Linked DNA regions of Homo sapiens: all the other regions are linked to region 1. Evidence: fine-mapped expression QTL. A gene starts in region 1. Each other region holds a variant in brackets. All regions are shown on one strand. Distances are from middle to middle. Region 1 holds the start of PDIA5 (protein disulfide isomerase family A member 5). Region 2 has its middle 19 kb from the start of MIR7110. Region 3 overlaps PDIA5 (protein disulfide isomerase family A member 5).

Evidence for each region. PIP is the estimated chance that this variant, and not a neighbour inherited with it, causes the effect. A credible set is the group of variants that fine-mapping cannot tell apart.
Region 2: its variant is the best candidate, but not a certain one, in a credible set for the expression of PDIA5 in monocytes (TOPMed, PIP 0.66).
Region 3: its variant is the best candidate, but not a certain one, in a credible set for the expression of PDIA5 in whole blood (INTERVAL, PIP 0.54).

What each region holds. Positions count from the first base shown.
Region 1 is chr3:123,065,672-123,068,354 of GRCh38, reverse strand. It overlaps PDIA5 (protein disulfide isomerase family A member 5), which reads right to left and starts at 1,330. Exons shown (of 17, transcript NM_006810.4): 1 at 1,149-1,330. The coding sequence starts at 1,190. RefSeq lists a silencer at 1,036-1,275.
Region 2 is chr3:123,179,283-123,181,965 of GRCh38, reverse strand. No RefSeq gene overlaps it. Among named protein-coding and RNA genes, the nearest start is that of MIR7110, 19 kb to the right of the region's middle. The variant C/T (reference allele first, on the strand shown) is at 1,533.
Region 3 is chr3:123,130,556-123,133,238 of GRCh38, reverse strand. PDIA5 (protein disulfide isomerase family A member 5) reads right to left here. Exons shown (of 17, transcript NM_006810.4): 11 at 2,623-2,683. Among named protein-coding and RNA genes, the nearest start is that of MIR7110, 30 kb to the left of the region's middle. The variant A/G (reference allele first, on the strand shown) is at 1,148.

The DNA.
Region 1 (2,683 bases):
CCACTCCTCACTGGTGATCCAAAAGGCCAGGGTATTGGGAGATGGAAGTGTTTCAAGCAACTCAACCCACACTTTTCTCCTCCCATTTGCCCAGTGTCCTTGCCACACCCAAATGGAAAAGAACGGGAAAATCTGGGTTGGGGGGAGGGTGCCAGGAACAGGAAGTTCCCTGGAACTTCAGGGGAAAAGGACCAGGATGGTCCTAAAATAAGGGAGCGCATAAGTTATGGAAAAGATGGGGAAGGAGGCCACAATATCTCATCACACACCCACAGCGAAACGAAGGCCAAACCCCAGACCTGGGCCGGCAGGCACACCCATTCCGACCTCTCTCAGGGATGCCTGGAGTCCCCCCCACCAAGTGTAGCAAACTACTCTTGGAGTCCACTCCTTTTCCACTTTTGTAAGATTTTGCAGTTTACACAGCTTCCTCCACTGAGACCTCATCCGACTCTCAGAACCACCCTATGGGGGTAGCTTTGCCTTTCTATATCATGCATGAGGAAACTAGCTCAGATACATTAAATGAACCGCCGCGTCACACAGCTAGAAAGTGGCTGAGGCTCGAGCCCGCCTCAGTTGGGTGTAGGAGCAGCTCCTCCGCCGGGGCGGGCTACGTCGACCCCACCCAGCCCACCGAGCCTGGCCTGTGGGCGGAGGCCCAGGTGGTGGCCCGCAGTTTCCCAGACGCCTGGGGCCGAAGCCAAGAACAAGGTGGCCCTAAACCAAGGTTTCCGGCAGTGCAGGTAGTAAGCACCCCCATCCCACCCCGCACTCACACAGGTGCAGGGCTCGGAGTCTGGAGCGGAGCTCACCCCGCAGCCCGCCGGCGTCCTGCCCGACCGGCTGTGCCCCGACCTGCATCCCCGCAAAGTTGTGGCCGTGGCGTAAGCACCCTGCCAGGGATCTCCCGGCGCCCCACAGCTGCCTCCTGCCCCTGCGTCCGGGAGCGCTTGGCGGCGAGGGCACCGGGACGCCCGCTGTCTCCCGCGTAGCACCCAGTGCCCGCCTGCCTGGCATGCACGCCCTCATCCCGGTGCCCCGGGGCAGCTCCCCGCACGTTCCGCAGAGGGCTGGAGCAGAGAGCGCAGAAGGGCACGCGGGACACACGTGCTGGCCCGGCCCGGATCCCTGCCCCACAGTCTCACCCAGATTGCCAGCAGCAGCCACGCCGGCCCGGCCCGCGCCATCCCAGCAGCGCTGCCCACCGCTGGCTCCTTTCTCCACTCCGGCGCCCGCTCCCGCCCGCCCGCCTGCTAGCTCCACCGCGGCCAACCACCACGGCCACTTCCCAGCCGCTCCCCGCCTCCGAGTTCCCGGTGCCACGTCTGCCAAAGCATGCGCAGCAGCTGGGGAGAGGCGGCCGGGAAGAAGTGCTCGCTGGGAGTTGTAGTCTGCAGCCTGGCTCAGCTGGGGGCTGCGGGTGCGGACTGGGCTCCGAGGCCACGTGGCAGCGAGTGAAGTGCGAAAAGGCAAGGTCAGGGAGTAAGGGAAGGCAATTAATGAGCGGGGGCTTACTCTGTGCCTGGAGCTTCAGAAACAGTATCTCACGCAGCTCACAGAAATTAGGTTTTATTTTCTCCACTTTGAGGATTAGGAGGCAGCGCAGGGAATTTAAGTACGTTGATCCAGATCACACAGCCGGTAAATGGCAGAGTCCAGGGCTGCCTGTGAAGGACAGGAAAAGCCCTCATCCCTGCCTCCCAGACTCCCTCCTGCTTATTCTATTTAACTTCAGTAAAACATTATTGAGCTGTTGGAAAACAATCTGGTGGTTCCTCAAAAAGTTAAACATAGATTACTATATGACCAGCAATTCCACCCTTAGGCTAATACCCAAAAGAATTGAAAACAGGTATTCAGACAAATGCACGTACACCAGTGTTCACAGCAACACTATTTACAATAACCAAAAGGTAGAAACAACTCTAACGTCTGTCAAAGGATGAATGGGTAAACAAAGTGTGATACATCCATCTAATGGAATGTTATTTAGCCATTAAAAGGAATAAAGTGGCCCAGCAGGGCAGCTCATGACTGTAATCCCAACACTTTGGAAAGCTGAGGCAGCAGAATCGTGTAAGACTAGGAGTTTGAAACCAGCCTGGGCAACATAGCAAGACCTCATCTCTGCTAAAAATAAAAATAAAATAAAATAAAATAGCTGGTGTGGTGGCAAGGGACTGTAGTTCCAACTACTTGGGAGGCTAAGGCGGGAGGATTGCTTGAACCTGGGATATGGAGACTGCAGTGAGCCAAGATCATGCCACTGCACCCCAGCCTAGGCCACAGGGTGAGACCCTGTCTCAAAAAAAAAAAAAAAAAAAAAGGTGGGGGGGAGAGAATAAAATGCTAATACATTCTACAATGAATGAATCTCAGAAATGTATGCTAATGAAAGAAGCCAGACACAAAAAGTCACATATGATGTGATTACATCTTATGAAATATTTAGAATAGGTAAATCCACAGAGACAGAAAGCATAGTAGTGGGGGTGGGGAGGAAGGAATGGGGAATGACTGCTTAATGAGTATAGGGACTCCTTTGGGAGTGATAAAACATTTTGGAACTAGATGGAGATGATGGTTCCACAACATTGTGAAGGTACTAAATGCCACTAAACTGTACACTTTAAAATGGTTAATTGATGTTATGTGAATTTTACCTGAGTAAAAATTTTCA
Region 2 (2,683 bases), 110 kb before region 1:
TCTCTATGAAGAAGAGAACCTTGACCTTAAGGTCAAGGGATCTGGTTTTTTTGTTTTTTAACCTTAGTGCAGAGAGTTCATCATAATCATTTCAAGAGTTCCTGAATTCATAGCAAATTATCATGACCAGTCCATTAAAACCCCTCTCTTTCTTTATATCATTTTTAAGCCCAATGCCATTCGCATTACTTGAAATGCATCAGTACACACAATGACATCACATATTCTTAAGGACATTCGTATCCTTACTTACAGACACATCTCACACACTGGTGAGGGAGATGCACATGGGGACAAAAGGGAATCTGTAAATTAAAAAAAAAAAAAAAAGCCAAGAGAGGGGCTACCTGTCCTGGCAGTGCTAATCGTGTCCCCAGGTTGGAAGGATGATGAGAGCAGCTCTCTGGAGAGGTGGTCCATGGACGTGAGAGCCAGGCAAAAATGATGGGCAGAAACCACGGAGGGTCTATCCAGACCTACAAGCAACACCATGAGGCCACAGGGAATTTGCTGGACATGGAGCAATCTTTCCAGGCCTGTCTGCCCTTCTGTCCACTTTGAGTGTCCAGTGTTAACACGTTCAGATCCTGGTACCTGGGTAGCTTCACATGGAGTCACCTGGCAATTCCTTAGGTTCCTAGAAATATAAACAGCCAGAGTCTGACTGAATTTTGTCACTGATTTATTTCAGGATTGATAAAAAAAAGTAAATTGTTCTCCCTAGAGTGGTGTTCTCCTAATACATTCCATCAGGAAAACGTTCTCTTTTTCTGTGGCCAACCACTATGAAGGTTGTAGATTTTACAGAAGAACCAGAACTGAGGGCCACATCCTGGACAGTCCTGGCCACGAGCTTAAGTGATGGGGCTTGTCTGTGGATTGTCTTTGTTAGAAAGATGGATGCAACTGTAGTGCTGGTCACCAATGCTGGTGACACACGGCCTCTAGAAGCGGGCTAATCCAGTGGGAATCCGGCCAGACCTGCCAGAAGGCATTTTATTTTATTTTTAGCCAATCTCCTCCACCTTCCAGGTAGTCATCCACCCATGTATCTCATATATATGTTGTTAAATACGCCTGTATCTTTATGAAATATGTGTTGTGTTATGGTATGTGTGTAATCATTTCTTTCCCATGGGTAGTAAATGACATTGCACAAAGTCTGATACAAAAGTCTGGACTAATTTTTAGAATGTTAAATAGACTGCTTCTTCCACAGGACTTTAAGGTAATGTGCTGATGAATAGACTATGCAACTTTATTGCGTTTATATGGTTTTCAATGCCCTTTGAAATGTGATTAATTCTTTTAAGGATCATGGACCCTTATGACACTTAGCTCATAAATAATTAAATCCAATTAATACTCCAGACTGAACTAAACCTAATTTATTTCAAGTTCCAGTTCCAGCAGAGGAGGCCTTGGTTCACTACTTCTGAAATAATATCACTACCTCACTCTATCTTCCCTTCAATTCATTTGAGTACTAAAACATAGGTGACAAAAAGGGGAAGTTATGCATGTAGAGTTTA[C/T]GTTAAAATATAGTATTTTATTAATTTGAAAAATGTTAAAATTCAGAAAAGTAGAGAGAATAGTAGAACAAACTGCATGCCTCCACATTTTTTCTTTAAAAAATAATTTATGAAGTATGAAATAATACATGAAAAGCCATTAAAATAATATAAAGAACATCACTATGCCCAGCCCTCAGATTAAAATCTTACAAATACGGTTGAAGGCACTTCCCTGACTCCATTCCCCTCCATTCTTTCACTGCCCAAATCACCGCTATTCTCAATTTTGTGTTTATTATTCCCATGCAACTCTTTTAGCTTTTACTACTCATAGAGGCATCCAAAACAATAGTATTGTTTTGTAGATTTTAAGCTTTGTATAAATGAGATCATACTCCCAATATCTTTCAACTTTTTAATTTTCAGTGATTTTTTTCTTGTTAATAACTATGGCTCTAATTCATTCCAACTCCACTGCCACCTGTTTTTAATTGCATGATTAAAATTTATTTTTGTGATGACCAACGACGTTGATTCGAACATTCTCAAACACATCCTCTTTTGTACATATGAAGGAATTTCTCTAGAATATGTGACCATGTGTTTATAGACAGCAAATCTAAGTTTAAAAAGAGCAAAAACTCAGCCTAATTTTTCCTTAATTATGTAGAGCTCTGTAAAATGGTAGAATATATGAGGCTTCTAATAAGACAGACCTGATAGTGATAAACCTCATATTCCATTGAGGTCCATTACTTTATACCTCTCAAATATAGTTTTTGAACCCAAGGTAATTTTATTAAGTTGGAAAAAAGTCTAAATTCAATCATTTATTTTGGTGTGAATTTTAAAAAGAAGAAAGAAAGTGAAAGAAACAAATATACATAGCAGCAAAATGGAAAGAAATGTTCTACCTACTGGCCTCCGCAGAGCTCAGAGAAAGGCCTCCCTCTGGCCTCCCCTAAGCATAGAGAAAAAAAAAAATAATCAGAATTAGGAATTCAAAATGCCCGGAAAGCCAAAAGAATGCTTCTTTCAACACTTTCTGCAAAAGCCGTATGAACTGGGGAGGCATCTTCTCCCACCTCCTCACTTACGACAACCTACCAACCTGCAGAGAGAGTGCCTTGCAACCGTGATGTGGGCTGAGAGTGGTGGTTCATAACCTT
Region 3 (2,683 bases), 65 kb before region 1:
TTTACTCCAGGTCCCTCAAACACTGCAAAAGTGGTTTCTTGATCACTGGGGATTCTCAGAAGCACTCTGGCATGAGATACAAAGCCAGGCAGCTATGAGCTCTCTGCTCTCAGTTCACCTGTCCTGAGCTCCAAACTCCCTAAAGCATGTACATTCCATCCCTCCCTAGGCTAAAGACCATGCTCTTAATGAAGAAGTGTGTAGAAAGGGAATTAATCCAGAGCTATTACCATCCGACAGGAACATTGACGGGCAGTATATCAGGAAGCTAACCACATGCTTTTGCCCTGATCCCTCTCACTCTGCCAGCCCAGCAGAAATAAACCCACATGCGCACAACCATGAATGCCCAGGGGACTGGTGACCTCTCCCAACCCTAACTGGAAGGACAGACACATGGGGATGAAGACCCTGGAGGTTCCCAAGGAGGAACTGGAAACAGCCAGCCAGTATCTGCTGTCACGGCTGGGACAGGGGTGCAAGGATGGTGATTTCGGCTCTAGATTCAACATCAATTCCTGCAAGACTCGCTTCCAGCAGCAGCTCTGAGGCTGGCCAGGGAGTGTATTTTATAGCTAGGAAGAGCACTGCAGTGCTACCTGGCTGGCCTCATGGCGGGCACTTTTTTGAGTACCTTTACCCTCGGGGATGCCCTCACCAAGGCCCTAGCAGACCTGAGGCAGACGCCCTTCATTGCGCTTCATCAGGAGAGGCCCACAAGACTAGAGGGTTTTTGAAACTTAGTTTTGGGGGCTTGTTTTGGTCTCTTTTCTAGGAACTCAGAAGAGCTATAGGAAACTATTCCTTTAGAGCTATTCCTTTAGAGTCCTTTAGAGCTATTCCTTTAGAGTCTCCTAAGAATTTAGCACTTGTAAGAAATAATGAGTTAGGAAAATCCATGGTAAGAGTATGTTTATGAGCAATTCCCAGGCTAGCCAAACTCATGGATACTGTGGGGGAAGGGGAGGCGGCCAGGAGACTGGGGCTCAGGCTCTGACCCTGTTCTTCCTGGAACCTAAGGCTCTTGAGGCCTGAAGCAGCTCAGGACTCACGGAGCCGTGGGTGGTCTATGTCATTTCTCTGTGTGACGGTCTCATCTGTAAAATGGGGCTAATTGTACTCACTTTGTGGCACGCTGGGTAAAACA[A/G]AAGATGACCCTTCAGGAAGACAATGTGTTACCACTGTAGGGTGACACACAACTGTTGGCATGAGGACCCTATGATTAAGAGGAGTAATAACATTTCCTCCTGATAGAATATGCCTCTATGGACTAACCATCCTCATGCACTGTGACCTCACGATTTCAGCCCTGCTCCATGAGGCACTGACCTCTTGCTTTTCCTCCACAATCTCTTACTCACAACACTCTGTGCCCACACCTGCCATCCCCTGGCTCTCACGCGGCCTTGTCTGCCTTCCCAGGGGCAGCCTTGTCCCTCTTGGAAACCACCTATGGTCAATTTTCCACTCTCCATGGGAGTAGGAAGACACTGCTCCAGAAAACTCCTGGGCCACAGGCCTTCCAGCCCTTATCGCAAGCACGTTTGATAGCATTTACAGGATTTTACTTCCTTGATTCACTGTGGTCATTTCAGAATGAGAATGCAATGAGGTGAAGCAGACAGAAGGCATTCTAGATGCTGGATGATCTGCAGCTCCAGCCTGGCCTCCCCATGCCCTCTCAGCTCCTGGGCAAGCACAGGCTCTCCTGGGGCCTCAGCCCGCGACCACTTGTAAGGTAAGAGGTGACTACTGCCCTAGATAATATCTTTTTTTTTTAAATTAAAAAATTGTTTTTAGAGACAGGGTCTTTTTTTTTGAGATGGAGCCTCGCTCTGCTGCCCAGGAGGGAGTGCAGTGGCACAATCTTGGCTTACTATAACCTCTACCTCCCAGGTTCAAGCGATTCTCCTGCCTCAGCCTCCCAAGTAACTGGGATTATAGGTGCACGCCACCACGCCCGGCTAATGAGACAGGGTCTTGTTTGGTTACTCAGGCTGGAGTGCAGTGGCACAATCACAGTTCACTGCAGCCTCAACCTCCCAGGCTCAAGCAATCCTCCCACCTCAGCCTCCTGAGTAGCTGGGACTACAAGTGTGCACCACATGCCCAGCTAATTTTTAATTGTTTGTAGAGATGGGGTCTTGCTATGTGGCCCAGGCTGGTCTTGAACTCCTGGCCTTAAACAATCCTCCTGCCTTGACCTCCCAAAGTGCTGGGATTATAGGTATGAGCCCCCATATGAGGTATCAGCCCTAATTTTATTTCCAGGCCCAGTCTGTTCTAGGTAACATCTCAGGGTGCTTCCAGCTTAATTTCTCCAATTCATGCTGACTGGGAGGAAGATGCTCAGAGCTAGGGGTGGTGGAGACTCACTGAGCTCTAGCTAAGGGACAAGTAAAGCCTGATCAGGACTTCTGTGTTGTTTCCATGGCAATGGGGGGTAGGCCATGTGCACTACGAGGGTGGGGACCTCGCCTGTCACCACTGCATCCCCTGGCTTAGCATGGGTCCTGGCATCCAAAAAATAAGTGCTTCCTGGGTTCACATTGCAAAGCGCCACACTCATCCTACTCTGAGAGAGGGGAGGGTGTGGAGGGGGAGGAGCAAAGTTCCACTCACATGGGGCGTGGAACATGACGAGGACAGAGGAGTGTTCCTTCACAAACTGGTCAAAGTCTTC